2 separate regions of the Homo sapiens genome follow, and region 1 is linked to region 2. Evidence: fine-mapped expression QTL. Tissue or cell type: whole blood. Region 2 holds a variant in brackets; the other region holds the start of a gene. All regions are shown on one strand. Distances are between the middles of the regions.

The links. PIP is the estimated chance that this variant, and not a neighbour inherited with it, causes the effect.
Region 1: it holds the start of DAZAP2, and the variant in region 2 is fine-mapped to the expression of DAZAP2 in whole blood (INTERVAL, PIP 0.98).

The regions. Positions count from the first base shown.
Region 1 is chr12:51,233,899-51,242,062 of GRCh38, reverse strand. DAZAP2 (DAZ associated protein 2) reads right to left here and starts at 3,237. Exons shown (of 4, transcript NM_014764.4): 1 at 3,143-3,237; 2 at 1,602-1,720; 3 at 947-1,192. The coding sequence starts at 3,155. RefSeq lists enhancers at 1,638-2,274, 2,991-3,240, 3,164-3,458, 3,550-4,187 and a silencer at 3,331-3,440.
Region 2 is chr12:51,207,580-51,215,773 of GRCh38, reverse strand. The region is part of intron 1 of POU6F1 (POU class 6 homeobox 1); the gene reads left to right. Among named protein-coding and RNA genes, the nearest start is that of POU6F1, 6.4 kb to the left of the region's middle. The variant A/T (reference allele first, on the strand shown) is at 3,792.

The DNA.
Region 1 (8,164 bases), 26 kb before region 2:
GACCAACAGTCATTTTGAGGGTAGAGAACCACTGTCCTACTCACATTCCCAAAACAGGGACAGGGTGCCAGTCCATGTATGAATCCCACATGGTCCCTACATAGTTTTTAATTTTTAATTTTTTTTTTTTTTAATTTTTTTGAGATAGAGTCTTGCTCTTGTCGCCCAGGCTGGAGTGCAGTGGTGGGATCTCAGCTCACTGCAACCTCCACCTCCCAGGTTCAAGTGATTCTCCTGTCTTAGCCTCCCAAGTAGCTGGGATTACAGACGCCTGCCACCATGCCCGGCTAATTTTTGTATTTATAGTAGAGTCGGGGTTTCACCATGTTGGCCAGCCTGGTCTCAAACTCCTGACCTCAGGTGAGCCACCGTGCTTCGCCCTTACACAGTTTTTGAATGAACTACTGGAAAACTGAAGGCTCGCTAATGACACATTCACTTCATCTCTAGCATGTAGTTACTGAGCAGTCATTTGAGCTCTAAATCCCACGCACTGGGGAATTAAGTAGGAAAAAATGATAACTAAAATTGTTAATATCTTTCTAAAAGCTACTTACTAGGGATTATACATTCTACTTTTTTAATTATCAGGGTTCCTAGTGCAACACCATGCTGATGGCAAATATTAAGTAAATGGTAAATGCTTATGGAATGAATAAGGAGCATTACTAGACCAGTTCAGTGTACCACAATGAACTGGAAAAGCAGCAAGCAGGACTCGACAGACATGAAAACAAAAGAATCTGGTTAACTCAGCCCCCAGTGAGATGCTACTCACTTGCCACAGTTCTGCCCCCTCAAACACTTTCTGCCTGAGTATTGGATGTCAGTAGTTGTACCAACACTGGCAACTATCATCCAGAAATGGTAAGAGAATGAATATGAAGTCATTTCAGAAAGTTAAAATACACAAGGGCTGAGTTTCTTCTGATGAGGTCATACTCACAGGAATGTTGCCAGCAGTAGCCCCAGCTCCAAATCTGGCACCTGCATCATACCCTCCTTCCACCAGCACTGTGGAGCCAGGTGGATAGATGGGACCGACTGGATAATAAGCCATGGGGATTGTGGAACCTAAAGGCCCAACAGCCACAGACTGGGCCATGGGAAGATACAGAGAGGCTCCAGGAAATGCGGCTGACATGGTGGGGACTGTGGCAGCCCCTGGGTGCACAAAGCTCGGACGATAGAGCTAGAAGAGGCAGAAGAGAAGGCAAAATGTTACTTTATGACATTCCTATTTGAGATCTCTTTAATGAGCTAATTCTTAATTCTCCTTATGCAGGTTATACTTTTTGTAAGATTATACAAGTTGCCTTTCCACTGGCCTTCAATATTCTCCTGGATCACTTTCTGCTATAGCTAATGTTGGGCTCACAGAACGCAAATTCATCTTCTGCACCTTAGCCTGTGCCAAATAACACAAAATCATCAAATAATGCACTTTCAACTCCGACAAAAATTGCCAAATTATATAGTGTTTTAGATTATTCATGTTAGCATTTGTGAAGAGTAAATATGTGAAGTCAGATTTAGCTAAGGACTAAAGGACCACCCTAAGAGTATTCCCAGCTAGTTCAAATCTGGCAAACTGGAAGCACCTCTGAGTAGGCAGGTGGAGCATCGGTATAGGGTGGAGCCTGAGGAAGATGCAAGGTCTGAGGGTATACTGGATTCCCAGGAGGCTGCACAGGGTAGGTTGGCTGTGTTGGATATTGACCTGAAAGACAAGAAAAAAATGAAGGTTGCCTACTACACAGAGCTACCAAAATGAGGCAGGTCATATCGGGTAGCTAACTTAGTGGGAGCAAGCAGAAGGGGATTTGCAAATAGTCTGCCCCAGAGGGCCTGATTCCTGGAACTAAGAAAATATGCATTGTCTTTGCACCCTTAAAATGGAAGGTGCTGGATTCTAACGAGACAAGAAAGGCACTGCTCACTGCTCCTACTAACATACCGAAGTAAGGGGTTAAGTCTACCTGGGCCCAAGTTCCCTCCGGAATGCAGGACAGGTCTGGGGTTCTGGCCTGCTGCTGTTCTGGCTTATCAAGGGTGCCTCTGCTCTAGGTAGTCTCCACAGCCTGTCTACAACCAGCCCAGACTTCGTGGGTAACAGCAGTTCTGATTTTCCTTACAGATTACTATTCAAGGTCGACTTCCAAACAAAGGGTGTGAATGATGGAAGTGAACCGTGAGACTGGGAAAAGGGTGCAGGGCTGAGGGGTGAGGAGGAATATCCTCACTGGAAAAGCGGGGGATCAGGTTTGGTTTTTTGTTTGTTCTGAGACGGAGTCTCGCTCTTTTGCCCAGGCTGGAGTGCAGTGGCGCGATCTCGGCTCACTGCAACCTCCGTCTCCTGGGTTCAAGCAATTCTCCTACCCCAGCCTCCCGAGTAGCTGGGATTACAGGCGCCCGCCACCACGCCCAGCTGATTTTTGTATTTTTTAATAGAGACGGGGTTTCACCACGTTGGCCAGGCTGGTCTCGAACTCTTGACCTCAGGTGATCCGCCCGCCTCGACCTCCCAAACTGCTGGGATTACAGGCGTGAGCAACCTCGCTCGGCCTTTTTTTTTTTTTTTTTTCTATTCCTTTTTTACCCCCTCAACCTATTCCTGCGTTATGGGAATCATGTTCCGACAGACACACTGGTACAACCACAGAAAAGGGGAGAAGTTCTGATCCCGTCAGCGAAGGGCGAGGGGGTGCGAAGGGAAGGAAAAGAGACCTCACAGGCCCCGGCCCACGAACCAACTCCAGCAATTCAGTAGTTAAGTTCGGCCCCGCTGGGGGTTCCGGAGCGCGGCGCCCCGCCTCCGCCGGCTCTCCATTGGCCTACGCGAATGCCTGCGCTAGCGCTCTATTTGCTCCTGCGGATGCCCATCATGTCAAGCCCCCCCACCACCCGAGCCCGCAGCTCCAAACTGCGCCACAGAGTTTACGGAGGAAAGGGCCTGGAGGCAGCAAGCTGCCGTAATTTGGGTATGACGAAGGCGTCAGGCGCAGCGCCCTGGACTGCAGCCGGCCAAGGAGCATGGCGCAGCCCACCCCAAACCTGGCGTTTGGTGACCCTGGGCTCCGAATCCGCTCGCTCTGGGCCAGCAGTACTCCCCCCGACGGCCTCTGCCACCCTCGGTCCTTGCCTTTGCTGTTCATGGTGGTTGCGGGTCCGGTTTGTCTCGGCGTCGCGGACGGTTATTTTTTTCGTCCTCTTCCTGTTCGGAGCTACTTCCGTGTCACATGATGGTCCGTCCGCCTAGCGTCACCCGACGCCCGAGTGGCGCTGCCGCCGGAAACTCCGCCCCTGCTCCGGGCCTCCAGTCGGCCGCGGGAGGGTCCGCGCGGTCCCGCCCACTCGCCTTGGCCCCACCCCCTGCTCGTTTCTGTCCTCCCCCCCCCTACCGGTGTCCCTCAGCTGGAGAAAAACCAAATGCAGGTATTGTCTGGAAACAGGATCTTTTCTCTGTTGGACGCTCGGATGCAGAACGATGCAAGCATTCCCCGGAACCTTTTTCCACCTACACGCATTCACTCAAGGTCACCTCACCTTGGCAACCTTCCACGAGGGGCTTAGATTTCTGCAAATTTGTCGCACTGCCTGAAATCGGCTCCCCACACCTTAGTTTATCATGCGTCCCTCCCCACCAAGCCCAACTTAAGCTTCAGCTCTGTTAAAATTTATTTTGCCACTCCAGCTCACATGTATCCTTTCCTGAATGAGACCTGCACTGGAATCTTCGCTGCCCTGTCTTCCCCAGGACAGTCGTTGCCTTTCTCACGTACAGGAAGGGGTTATGTTTTCCGTGCTGTACGCAACACCTGGCACTGAAACTGACATAACTGCACTACCCATGGAGTGTTTGTGGCCCTTTCCTTTTTTTAGCACCTGTTGCAGGTGACCTGTATGGTACCTCTATTTTTCTCTATGTATGGCTTCTCTTTCTAACCTAATTATCCTTAAGGGCAAAGATGGCATCCTTTAGGGCAGCGATTAAGTGTTTTCTTTTCTTTTTCTTTTTTTTTTGAGACGGAGTCTTGCTCGCTTGCCCAGGCTAGAGTGCAGTGGGGCGATCTCACCACAGCCTCCACCTCCCGGGTTCAGGCAATTCTCCTGCCTCAGCTTCCTGAGTAGCTGGGCCTACAGGCGTGCGCCACCATTCCTGGCTAATTTTTGTATTTTTAGTAGAGACGGGGTTTCACTATGTTGGCCAGGCTGGTTTTCTTTCTTTCTAAAAAAAGTTTTAATTTTTTCTTTTCTTTTTTTTTTTTTTTTTTTTTTTGAGATGGAGTCTTGCTCTGTCGCCCAGGCTGGAGTGCAGTGGCATGATCTCGGTTCACTGCAACCTCCGCCTCCTGGGTTCAAGCAATTCTCCTGCCTCAGCCTCCCGAATAGCTGGGATTACAGGTGCCCGCCACCACGACCGGCAAATTTTGTATTTTTTAGTAGAGACGGGGTTTCACCATGTTGGCCAGGCTGGTCTCGAACTCCTGACCTCAGGTGATCCACCTGCCTCGGCCTCCCAAGGTTCTGGGATTACAGGCATAAGCCACTGCGCCGAGCCTTATTTTTATTTATTTATTTATTTATTTATTTATTTATTTATTTATTTATTTATTTTTGAGACAGAGGCTTGGTCTGTCGCCAGGCTGGAGTGCAGTGGCGCAATCTCAGCTCACTGCAACCTCCGCCTCCAGGGTTCTAAGCGATTCTCCTGCCTCAGCCTCCCGACTAGCTGGGATTACAGGCACGTGCTATTCATTTTTTAATACAGAGATGGGGTCTCCCTGTGTTGGCCAGGCTGGTCTTGAATTTCCAGCCTCAAGCGATCTTGCCACCTCCATTGTCCAATGATTAAAGGGTTAACTCTTAGGACCCAGGAACTCTCCTGGGCCTACCTCCTGCTCATGTAAACTGCCCTCAGATTGGTCAGGCCTACTTTACAGGTTGTTGGGTATTTTGCTTGTCACAGTGGGACCTGGGCATTGGGAAAACCAGGGCAGAGCCAAATGAGATTACTAACAAAAATGAAAGAGTTGCAGGCCAGTGCTTTCTCTGGCAGGTGGAATTAAGAAGTAAATGGTGGCTGGGTGCAACAGCTCACACCTGTAATCCCAACACTTTGGGCAGCCTAGGCAGGAGGATCGCTTGAGCCAGGAGTTCAGAACCAGCCTAGGCAGCATAGTGAGACTTCATCTCTACAAAAAAAAGTAGTAGTAATTAGCTACTTTCTTGAACAGGATCAAACTTTGGCATTTTCTTCATTCTCGTAGATTCCCCAATGAGATGAAGATGTTTATTTGGTCATTTATCAAACATTCTTTCTTACATTAATTTAACAAATATTTTTTGAGCACCTATTATGTGCCAGGCCCTGTGACAGGCACTAGGGAAATAATAATGAAGAGACAGGCATAGTCCATACTCTCATGGAATTTATGGTCTACCTAATGGGAGAGACAGAAAAGTGAACACATAATATGATTAGTGCTGACATAAAGACAGCATGGAGTGTGAGGAGAACACATAGGTGAGGCACCTACTCTATTCTGATGTAGTCAGGGAAGGTTTCCTGATGCAAGTGATGTCTGAGATGAAATCTGAAGGGTGAGAGCAGGTTAAGCAAGTGAAGAGGGTTCCTGGAAGAGGGAACTGCTTATGCAAAGGCCTAGAGGTGAGAAGGCTTATAGAGGGGGAGGGCATGAAAGAGTTCAGTGTAGCCAGAGCATACTGGTAAGGGGACTGATAAAAGATGACCCTGAAGATCCGGGTGCGGTGGCTCATGCCTGTAATCCCAGCACTTTGGGAGGCCAAGGCGGGCAAATGACTTGAGGTCAGGAGTTCGAGACCAGCCTGGCCAACATGGGGAAACCTCGTCTCTACTAAAAACACAAAAATTAGCTGGGCATGGTGGTGCGTGCCTGTAATCCCAGCTACTTGGGAGGCTGAGGCAGGAGAATTGCATGAACCTGGGAGGCGGAGGTTGCAGTGAGCCGCGATCGTGCCATTGCACTCCAGCCTGGGTGACAGAGCAAGATTCTGTCTCAAAAAAAAAAAAAAAAAAATTGACGCTGAAGAACTGTGAGCCAGACCTTGCAGGGACGCCTTAGAGCCCATGTAAGATCCCACATGAAGATACTGGATTCTATGTTAAGGGCACTAGTTAGCCACTGAAGAATGTTAAGCAGGAAAGTGATATGATCTTGTTTTTGTTTGATTGATTGATTGATTGGGACAGGGTCTTGCTCTGTCACCCAAGCTGGAGTGCAGTGGTGCAGTCACAGCTCACGGCAACGTTGAACTCCTGGTCTCAGTTCATCCTCTCACCTCAGCCTCCCGAGTAGCTGGGACAGTGGGTGCTTGCCACCATGCCTGGCTAATTTTAAATTTTTTATAGAGACAGAGTCTCACTTTGTTGCCTAGAGTAGTCTAGAACTCCTGGCCTCAAGCAATCCTCCTGCCTCGGCCTCCCAAACTTGGGATTACAGGCGTGATCCACTGCTCCTGGCTTGTGTTTTTCTTTTAGAAAAATGCTTCTGGGCCAGGCACAGTGGCTCATGCCTGCATTCCCAACAATTTGGGAGTCCAAGGCAGGAGGATTCTTTGAGCCCAAGAGTTCAAGACCAGCCTGTGCAACGTGGTGAAACCCCATCTCGGCAAGAAATTTCTAAAAAAGTATCCAGGCATAGAGGCACGCACCTGTGATCCCAGCTACTCGAGGGGTTGAGATAGGAGGACTGCTTGAGCCCGGGAGGTCGAGGCTGCAGTGAGTCGTGGTCACACCACTGTACTCTGCCAGCCTCGGTGATAGAGGCTATCTCAAAAAAATAAAGAAAAGAAAAGGAAAAATCCCTCTGGTTGCTAAAGAATATAGAATAGGTTAAAGAAAGGGCAAGAGTGGACGTATGTCTGAGATACCATTTAGAATCAAATTTAGTCATTTAGGTGTGATGATGGCAGACTGGCCTAGGGAAGAGGCAGTACAGTAGAGAGAAATGGGGGGATTCCAGAAATATCCAGGAAGCAGAAACAACTGGACTAGTTCCAGGACTAATGTCAGGACAAAATTTCTACAAAGTCAAAACTCCATATAGTCAAATGACAAATTGGAAAAATATATTTGTAATTTACATCACAAAGAGCTAATCTTCCTGCATGTAAAGAACTCTTAGACATCAGTAAGAATATGATCAACCATTAGAAAAAAATGGCAAATGACATTTACAGACAGACAGTTCACAGAAAAGGAAAAACAAATGACTCCCTAACACATGAAATGATGTTCAGCCTGGGTCGTAATCAGAAGGCAGATTAAACCCCACCGATATCATTATCAGATTGGCGAAAATCCAAACATTTGCTAACATTATTTGCAGGGCTGTGGATAAGCAGGCATTCTAATTTGTTGGTGATGGGGGTGAAAATTGGTACAAATCCTATAAGGTTAATTTGGCAATATCCATCAAACTTGCAAACATACCATTCCCACTAATGGGAGTGATTCTACAGATATATTTGCACTCACGAGAAACGTATGTATAAGGCTATTCATTGCAGCTTTTCTGTAACAGCAAAAGATTAGAAATAACCCATATTTCTATCAATAGGAAACAGAAAAAATAAATCTTGATACATCCATACAATAAAATACTATGTGGCTGCAACAGAGAATGAGAAAGTACTCCAAGGTGTTCTTTAAATAAAAAAGGGAAAGATTCAAAACCATATACTTAGTGTGATACATTTTATTTATTTTATTTTTTATTTTATTTTGAGACAGAGTTGCACTCTTGTCACGCAGGCTGGAATGCAGTGGCGTGATCTCGGTTCACTGCAACCTCTGCCTCCCAGGTTCAAGTAATTCTTGTGCCTGAGCCTCCCAAGTAGCTGGGATTACAGGTGTGCACCACCATGCCTGGCTAGTTTTTGTATTTCCAGTACAGGCGGGGTTTTGCCATGTTGGCCAGGCTGGTCTCGAACTCCTGGCCTCGAGAGATCCACCCGCCTCGCCCTCCCAAAGTGCTGGGATTACAGGCGTGAGCCACCGCACCTGGCCAATATGATACTTTTTATGTCAAAGAGCAGGGAAACCAAGAATATTCATCAGAATTTGAGTAAAGAAATTCTGGAAGGATACACAAAATACCTATAAAAGTGGTTACATAAG
Region 2 (8,194 bases):
TGGGTCTTCTGCCTTTAAACCTGCCTTTGACCCCTCATGTCAAAATGAGGGTTCATGAGGCAGAAGAGAGAGTGGGATGCAGGAGAAACTGGCCACAGGAGGAAGGCTTGGAATGAGAAATTAGACGGGCGCTTTAGGAAGGGGCCAGTGTGGTCTGGGTTCTCCAGAACCCAATACTACACCTTGGAAATCTCTCTTTTTTTTTTTTTTTTTTTTTTGAGACAGGGTTTCACTCTGTCGCTCAGTCTGGAGTGCAGTGGCGCGATCTTGGTCTCACTGCAACCTCCACCTCCCGGGTTCAAGCAATTCTCCCACCTCGGCCTCCCAACTAGCTGGAACTATAGGCGCACACCACCATGCCTGGCTAATTTTTGTATTTTCAGTAGAGACGGGGTTTCACCATGTTGGCCAAGCTGGTCTTGAACTTCTGACCTCAAGTAATCCGCCCGCCTCGGCCTCCCAAAGTGCTAGGATTACAGACGTGAACCACCACACCCGGCCTGTACCACGTCTTTGAAATCATTTTTAAGTAGCCCCAGTACTGGAAATGGAGGCAAAACATTTGAAGTAGGGTGTGTGTTTTGAGGGAAAAGGTAGGAAATAATAAGAGGCTAAGTGATGTGGCTATGACGTGACCTCGTATCTTCAATTGTTTTCAGCCCATATTCATGAACCTAGTTATATACCAGATATTATCTTAGGCACCAGGGATATGATGATAAGCAGACATGATCCCTGCCTTCCTGGAGCTTACAGTCTACTAGGAACATACCTACTTTTCATTTTTCACATTTCTTTTTTTTTTCTTTTTTGAGACAGGTTCTCACTCTGCTGTCACCCAGGATGGGGTGCAGTGGCACAATCTTGGCTCACTGCAGCTTCACCTTCTTGGGCTCAAGCGATTCTCTGGCCTCAGCCTCCCAAGTAGCTGGGACTACAGGCCTGCGCCACCACACCCAGCTAATTTTTTATTTGTTTGTTTGGGTTTGTTATGTTTTGGTAGAGATAGGGTTGCACCATGTTGGCCAGGCTGCCCTCCAACTCCTGACCTCAAGTGATCCACCCGCCTCAGCCTCCCAAAGTGCTGGGATTACAGGTGTGAGCTACTACCCTTGACTCTACTCTCCTATTTATTTGGTCACCTCATCATTCTTTTTCCTTTCTCTGGCCTGTGTGTGCCTAGCTGTTAGCCTACCAACAGCTTGGCAAGACTGTTATCTCTGCTCATGGTTCAGGGTGTGGGGACAGGCGTCGGTGTGGAGCAGAATTGAGATCCTCTGTTTTCCAGTGTGTCCTGAGCCTTGGGGACCAGAGCAGTCCCCATCAGCCTTACCCCCATTTCCTGAGAGGAGGTTCTGTGTGGTGTCAGGAGGATGGGGTCCGGGGCAGGTCGACAGAGCCTTGAAGTTTGAATCTGCCACTGACTCTCCTGTGCCCTTGGTCAAGTCACCTGACCTCTCTCTACCTCTATGTACATATAGATAAAAATGAAGATGATTGTGGTAAGAGTCATGCTAAGCATTTCATTTACATGATCTCATATCACCATCATAACAATCCCATAGGGCTTGCCTATTTAATCACCATTTTATTTATTTATTTATTTATTTATTTTTATTTATTTATTTTTTTGACATAGAGTCTCACTGTGTCTCCCAGACAGGAGTGCAATGGCATGATCTCGGCTCACTGCAACCTCCGCCTCCCGGTTCAAGCGATTCTCCTGCCTTAGCTACCCAAGTAACTGAGATTACAGGCACCCGCCACCACACCCAGCTAAGTTTTGTATTTTTAGTAGAGATGGGGTTTCCCCATGTTGGCCAGGCTGGTCTTGAACTCCTGACCTCAGGTGATCCTCCTGCCTTGGCCTCCCAAAGTGCTGGAATTACAGGTGTGAGCCACTGCGCCTGGCCTAGTCACCATTTTAAAGATAACGAAATTAGGCCGGATGTGGTGGCTCACGCCTGTAATCCCAGAACTTTGGGAGGCCGAGGTGGGCAGATCACAAAGTCAGGAGTTCGAGACCAGCCTGGCCAATATGGGGAAACCCCGTCTCTACTAAAAATACAAAAATTAGCTGAGCAAGGTGGTGGGCGCCTGTAGTCCCAGCTACTCGGGAGGTTGAGGCAGGAGAATCGTTTGAACCTGGGAGGCAGAGGTTGCAGTTAGCCGAGATCATGCCACTGCACTCCAGCCTGGGCAACAAGAGCAAGTCCTCGTCTCAAAAAAATAAAATAAAATAAAATAAACCATAGAAATGGGCCAGGTATGGTGGCTCATGCCAGTAATACCAGCACTTTGGGAGGCTGAGGTGGGAAGATAATTTGAGCCCAGGAGTTGGAAACCAGCTTAGGCAACATGGAAAGACCCTGTCTCTGAAAAAAAATGATAATAAAACCAGAAATGGATCTGAGTTTAAAAGTCTGAATCCCATACAAGTTCCATTTTCCTACATAGGACAAGATTCTTTTACATAAAATTTCATGTCTGAAATACAGGCCTCCCTGGGAACAAGCACCACATAAAACTGCATTAGAGGCCGGGCGCGGTGGCTCACGCCTGTAATCCCAGCACTTTGGGAGGCCAAGGCGGGTGAATCATCTGAGGTCAGGAGTTCCTGACTAACCTGGGCAACATGGTGAAACCCCGTCTCTACTAAAAATACAAAAATCAGCCTGGTGCGGTGATGCGCACCTGTAGTCCCAGCTACTCAGGAGGCCGAGGCAGAAGAATTGCTTGAACCTGGGAGGCGGAGGTTGCAGTAAGCCGAGATCCCGCCGCTGCACTCCAACCTGGGTGACAGAGCGAGACTCCGCCTCGAAAAAAAAAAACAACTGCATTAGGTCATTAGGTGTTAGGTGTCCCTCTTGTAGATTCTTTACTGCTTTCTGTTCACCCACCATGAAACTTAAGCATACTGTATTGTAGTTACCTTCTTATTTCCTTGACTCCCATATTGGACTATAGCTTTCTTTTTTTTTTTTTTTTTTTTTTTTTGAGACGGAGTTTCACTCTTGTTGCCCAGGCTGGAGTGCAATGGTGCGATCTTGGCTCACCTCTGCCTCCCTGTTGTTCAAGCGATTCTCCTGCCTCAGCCTCCCGAGTAGCTGGGATTACAGGCATGTGCCACCACCCCAGGCTAATTTTGTATTTTTAGTAGAGACGGGGTTTCTCCATGTTGATCAGACTGGTCTCGAACTCCCGTCCTCAGGTGATCTACTCGCCTCAGCCTCCCAAAGTGCCGGGATTACAGGCAAGAACCACCACGCCCGGCCTGGACTATAGATTTCTTGACAAAGGTGGGAAATGTGTTTTCCCCATTGAATTCCCAGTGCCTAGCACATAGTAGCCACTGAAACATGCGTTGAAAAAACAAAGGTTTGGCTGGGCGCAGTGGCTCATGCCTGTAATCCCAGCACTTTGGGAAGCTGAGACAGGCAGATCACGAGGTCAGGAGTTCGAGACCAGCCTGGCCAACATGGTGAAACCCCGTCTCTACTAAAAATACAAAAATTAGCTGGGCATGGTGGCGCGCACCTGTAGTCCCAGCTACTCAGGAGGCTGAGGCAGGAGAATCACCTGAACCCGGGAGGCGGAGGTTGCGGTGAGCCGAGATTGTGCCACTGGACTCCAGCCTGGGTGACAGAGCCAGACTCCGTCTCAAACAAACAAACAAACAAACAAACAAAACAAAAAAAACAAAAAAAAAAACGAAAGGCAAGGCATTTCAGGATTTCTTCTAATAGGATCTCAGACTATTCTAGGGAGTTCTGATTTGTTTGGGATATCCC[A/T]GTTCTCCTCCTGGGTATCTTGGAATGTTGCACTAAGCCCAGAGCAGTTCCAGAGGAGAATGACAGGCAGAACTAGGTCCTCTAGCTCATTCTCCCCCGCTGAAAATCCTGCATGGCCCTGGACCTCTTTGGATTCTCAGGTGGTAGGCAAATGCCTTAGCACTTGCTGTTCCTTCTACCCCTGAGGCTGCTTGGGTTTTTGTTTGTATATTTATTTATTTATTAGGGACAAGGTCTTGCTCTGTCAAGGAGTGCAGGCTGGAGTGTAGTGGCGTGATCACGACTCACTGCAGCCTTGAACTCTGGGGCTCAATCAATCCTCCTACCTCAGCTTCCCAAGTGGCTGGAACCATAGGCGTGTACCACTACACCTGGCTAGTTTATTTTATTTTTTCAATTTTTTGTAGAGACAGAGTCTCCCTGCATTGCCCAGGAAGATATCAAACTCCTGAGCTCAAGCAATCCTCCCCCTTCAGCCTCCCAAAGCATTGAGATTGTAGGTGTGAGCTACTGTGCCCAGCCCTGCCTGCGTTTTTAGATGTTAGCAAGGAAAGCAAGGGATAAGTGAGCCATTTGCTAGCCAACCAGAGTGCCTTGCCAGCCCTGATCCAGGCGTTTTTCAAAGTCAACTCACTGGAGAAAGAAGGCAAAGGAGAGGGCCCTTGGTGGGCTCTGGCTCTCTCCCCAGCTTTAACCAGAGCAGCTCTGCTGTGATCTGTGTATGTATTGGGATTCTACTGCTGGGATGGGGACAGGAGCTCCTTCTCTTGAAACAGACAGCTGATTGTCTCTCCTCCCTGGCCTTCAGGCTGTGGGCACTGCACAGCATCATGGGCTTAAAGGAGGCCATCCAGATGTGCTATTTATGCAGTCATTGGGGAAATGGTCAAAAAGCAAACTGAAGAGGGCTGTCTAGTCACTGGAACCAAGCCACAGCCTGAGGCTCAAAAAAAATTTGGAAAGTTCCTGACAAGGAGATGGCAGCAGGTCCAGAGGAAAGTCTGCACAGATACCAAGCAAGGGGAACACACAGGGTACAGCTCAGAGTCAAAATGCTGAGTGTCTACTTGTCAGAGAGACGTTGATATCACATACATGTGTAATAGGAGCCATCTAAAGGTAAGACAGAGACAGACAAGGGAGTCTGAGATCTGAGACAAAGGAGGTCTTGGACTCTGCTCTGCCTGGATTTCTGGTGGGCTGAATGAAATCTGGTGGGTGGGTTGGAGTGGGCTTAGGTGTGGCTAGAGGCTATGTCTCAGGACTGACTTTGCCCTTGACTTAAAGGACCAGACACTGAGGACCCAGGTCCTCAAAGCTCGTCAAATTTTAAGGGTGAAAGGGATATCAGAATCACCCAAGCCTTATCACTACCTGAATCCTCCTAATAACACAGTCACAAAGTGGACGCTTGCCCCTGCTCAGCCACTCCCTGTGAGTGGCCATAGTTGGCAGCAAGGAGCCAGACGCCACAACAAGACTATGAGCAGACTTAACGCTCCTCTCAAGCAGATGCCTTGTTGTCCTACAAAGATTGGCTACTGCTGCCTTACGCCTAATGACCTTTGGAATTGGAAAATTCTTCTCCCCAAGAAATGTATGTATCAAGCTATAATGCACCCAGATTCACCTTGTGCAGCTTTCATTTCAATTTTGTCTCTTCCTCTTATTTTCTTTGCAAATGGCTTCTATGTGTAACGACTTTCATAGCTTATCCCAGTTCCTACCCAGAAGTGATGGTAAATTGCCAAGTTCTCTGAAAAACTCATGGAAGACTACCATGTACAAAATCTGGGGAGACAGGAGTTTAAGACTAGCCCTGGCAACATAGTGAGACCTCATATCTACCAAAAATAAAAAATAAAAAAAATTAGCTGGCCATGGGTAGTCCCAGCTACTCTGGTGGTTAAGGTGGAAGGATCACTTGAGGCTGGGAGTTTGAGGCTGCAATGAGCCATGGTCATGCCACTGCATTACAGCCTGGGCAACAGAGCAAGACCCTATCTCAAAACAAAAAAAAAATCTGAGGGGAGACATCACCTAAGAAGGAGGCTAGAGCCCCATTGAGGTAGTTAGATGCTCACCAGTTCTTTCAGCAAATTCCTCTGCCCCTCCTGCACCCCCTCATCCTACCTGAAAGGGGAAGGCTCATTTCCTCTTTTTTCAAATTGTTAGGTACCTGGAATTGCTTGCCCTCTCTTGAATCCCACTCTAGAGGGGTTAAGGAAGGAAGAGGAGGGAAAGAACCTCATGGTTCTCCTTACCTGGTTGATCAGGGAACATTCTGCCAAGCAATGAAGATGCTAAAACCCCAGGGGTGATCCAGCAATTCCATTCCTAGGTATATACCCAAAGAATTGGAAGCAGGTGTTCAAAAAAAATTATACCCAATAGTCATAATACACTATTTGCAATAGCCAAAAGGTAGAACAACCCAAATGTCCACCAACTAATGAATGGATAAACAAAATATAGTGTATCCATACAATAGAATACTATTCAGCCATGAAAAGGAATGAAGTTCTGACACATGCTACAATGTGGATGAACCTTGGAAACATGCCAAGTAAAAGAAGCTAGACACACAAAGCGACATATTCTATCATTCCATTTACATGAAATATCCAGAATAGGGAACCCCATAGAGAAAGCACATCAGTAGTTGCCAGGGCTTGGGCGGTGGCAGTGGAAGGTGAATGACTGTTAGTGGATATGGAGTTTCCTTTTGGGTTGATGAAAATGTTCTGGGACTAGACAGTGGTGATGGTGGCACAAGTGTGAACCCACCAGATTCCACTGTACGGAGCACTTTAAAGTGGCTAAAATGGTTAATTGTATGGGATGTGAATTTATCGTAGTCTGTTTGGGCTGCTATAACAAAATACCATAAACTGGGTAGCTTTTAAACAACAGAAATTTATTTCTCATAGTACTGAAGGTGGGAAGTCCAAGATCAAGGTGGTGTTGTCTGGTGAGGACCCACTTCCTCACTGACAGAGCCTTATTGCTGTGTCCTCACATAGTCGAAAGGGTGAAAGTATCTCTCTCACACTGGGGTCTCTCTGTTGCCCAGGCTGGAGTGCAGTGGCGAAATCACTGCTCACCACAGCCTCAACCTCCTGGGCTCAAGTGATCCTCCTGCCTCAATCTCCTGAGTAGCTGGGACTACAGGTATGCACCACTACGCTCAGCTACTTTTTGTACTTTTTGTAGAGACGGGGTTTCACCATGTTGTCCAGGCTAGTCTCGAACTCCTGGGCTCAAGCAGTCCACCTGCCTAAGTCCTGGGATTACAGGCATGAGCCTTGGTTCTTTTTTATATGGGCACTAATCCCATTCCTAATTACCTTCCAGAGGCCCTATCTCTTAATACTATCCACCTTGGGGATTAGCATTTCAACACATGAATTTGCGGGGAAGGACACATTCAGACCATAGCAGAAAGGAAAGGTGAATCCAGAACACCCCTCTGGGCTTTGTTTCACCATCTGTAACATGCGGATAATAATGCCTCCCATTCCCCACGCCCCCAGGGTTGGCATGAGTAATACAGCAAGCAATTGTGTTATATAAAATGTCTAGCATACAATATGCACTCGAAATAAATGTCAATTGCTTTTTTTCCTTTAAAAGTGTCTAAAGCTATTTGCCTGATTCTCTGTCTCTCTCTCTCTCTCTTTTTTGAGACAGGGTCTGGTTCTGTAACCCAGGCTGGAGTGCACCACTCACTGCTCACTGCAACCTCTGCCTCCCAGGCTCAAGCGATCTTCCCACCTCCCAGGCTCAAGCGATCTTCCCACCTCAGCCTCCTGAGTAGCTGGGACTATAGGCATGCGCCATCATGCCCAGCTAATTTTTTTTTTTTTTTTTTTGGTACAGACAGGGCCTCACTATGTTGCCCAAGCTGGTCTGGAACTCCTGGACTCAGGTGATCCTCCTGCCTTGGCCTCCCAAAGTTCTGGGATTACAGGCGTGAGCCTCTGCGCCCAACCTATTTTCTTTATTTCTTACGACTGTAGTTTGTGGCTCTAGTCAGACAACCTGTCCTCACATGAGGGCTTCACCCACTCCTCACTGCACAGGGCAGGCTGTTCCACCATCTGGGATGTCCCACCTCCTCTGTTACAGGCCACTGTGGTCTTTGGGCCACTGTCACAGAGTCACCTGAGAGCTGATTCTGTGATGTTCACCCACTGAATCAGACTCTCTGAGAGTAGTTGGGTGAAAAGGTCTAAGGGTCTGCATTTACATTTTTATTTTTAAATTATTACTCTGTATTTTATTTATTTAGTGAGACTGAGTCCCACTCTACTCTGTACTTTAATTGATATAAATACTAACATTTTTACTAAGTGCTCCAGGTGATGATCATGCATATTAAAGTTGGAGAGCACTTTAATTTA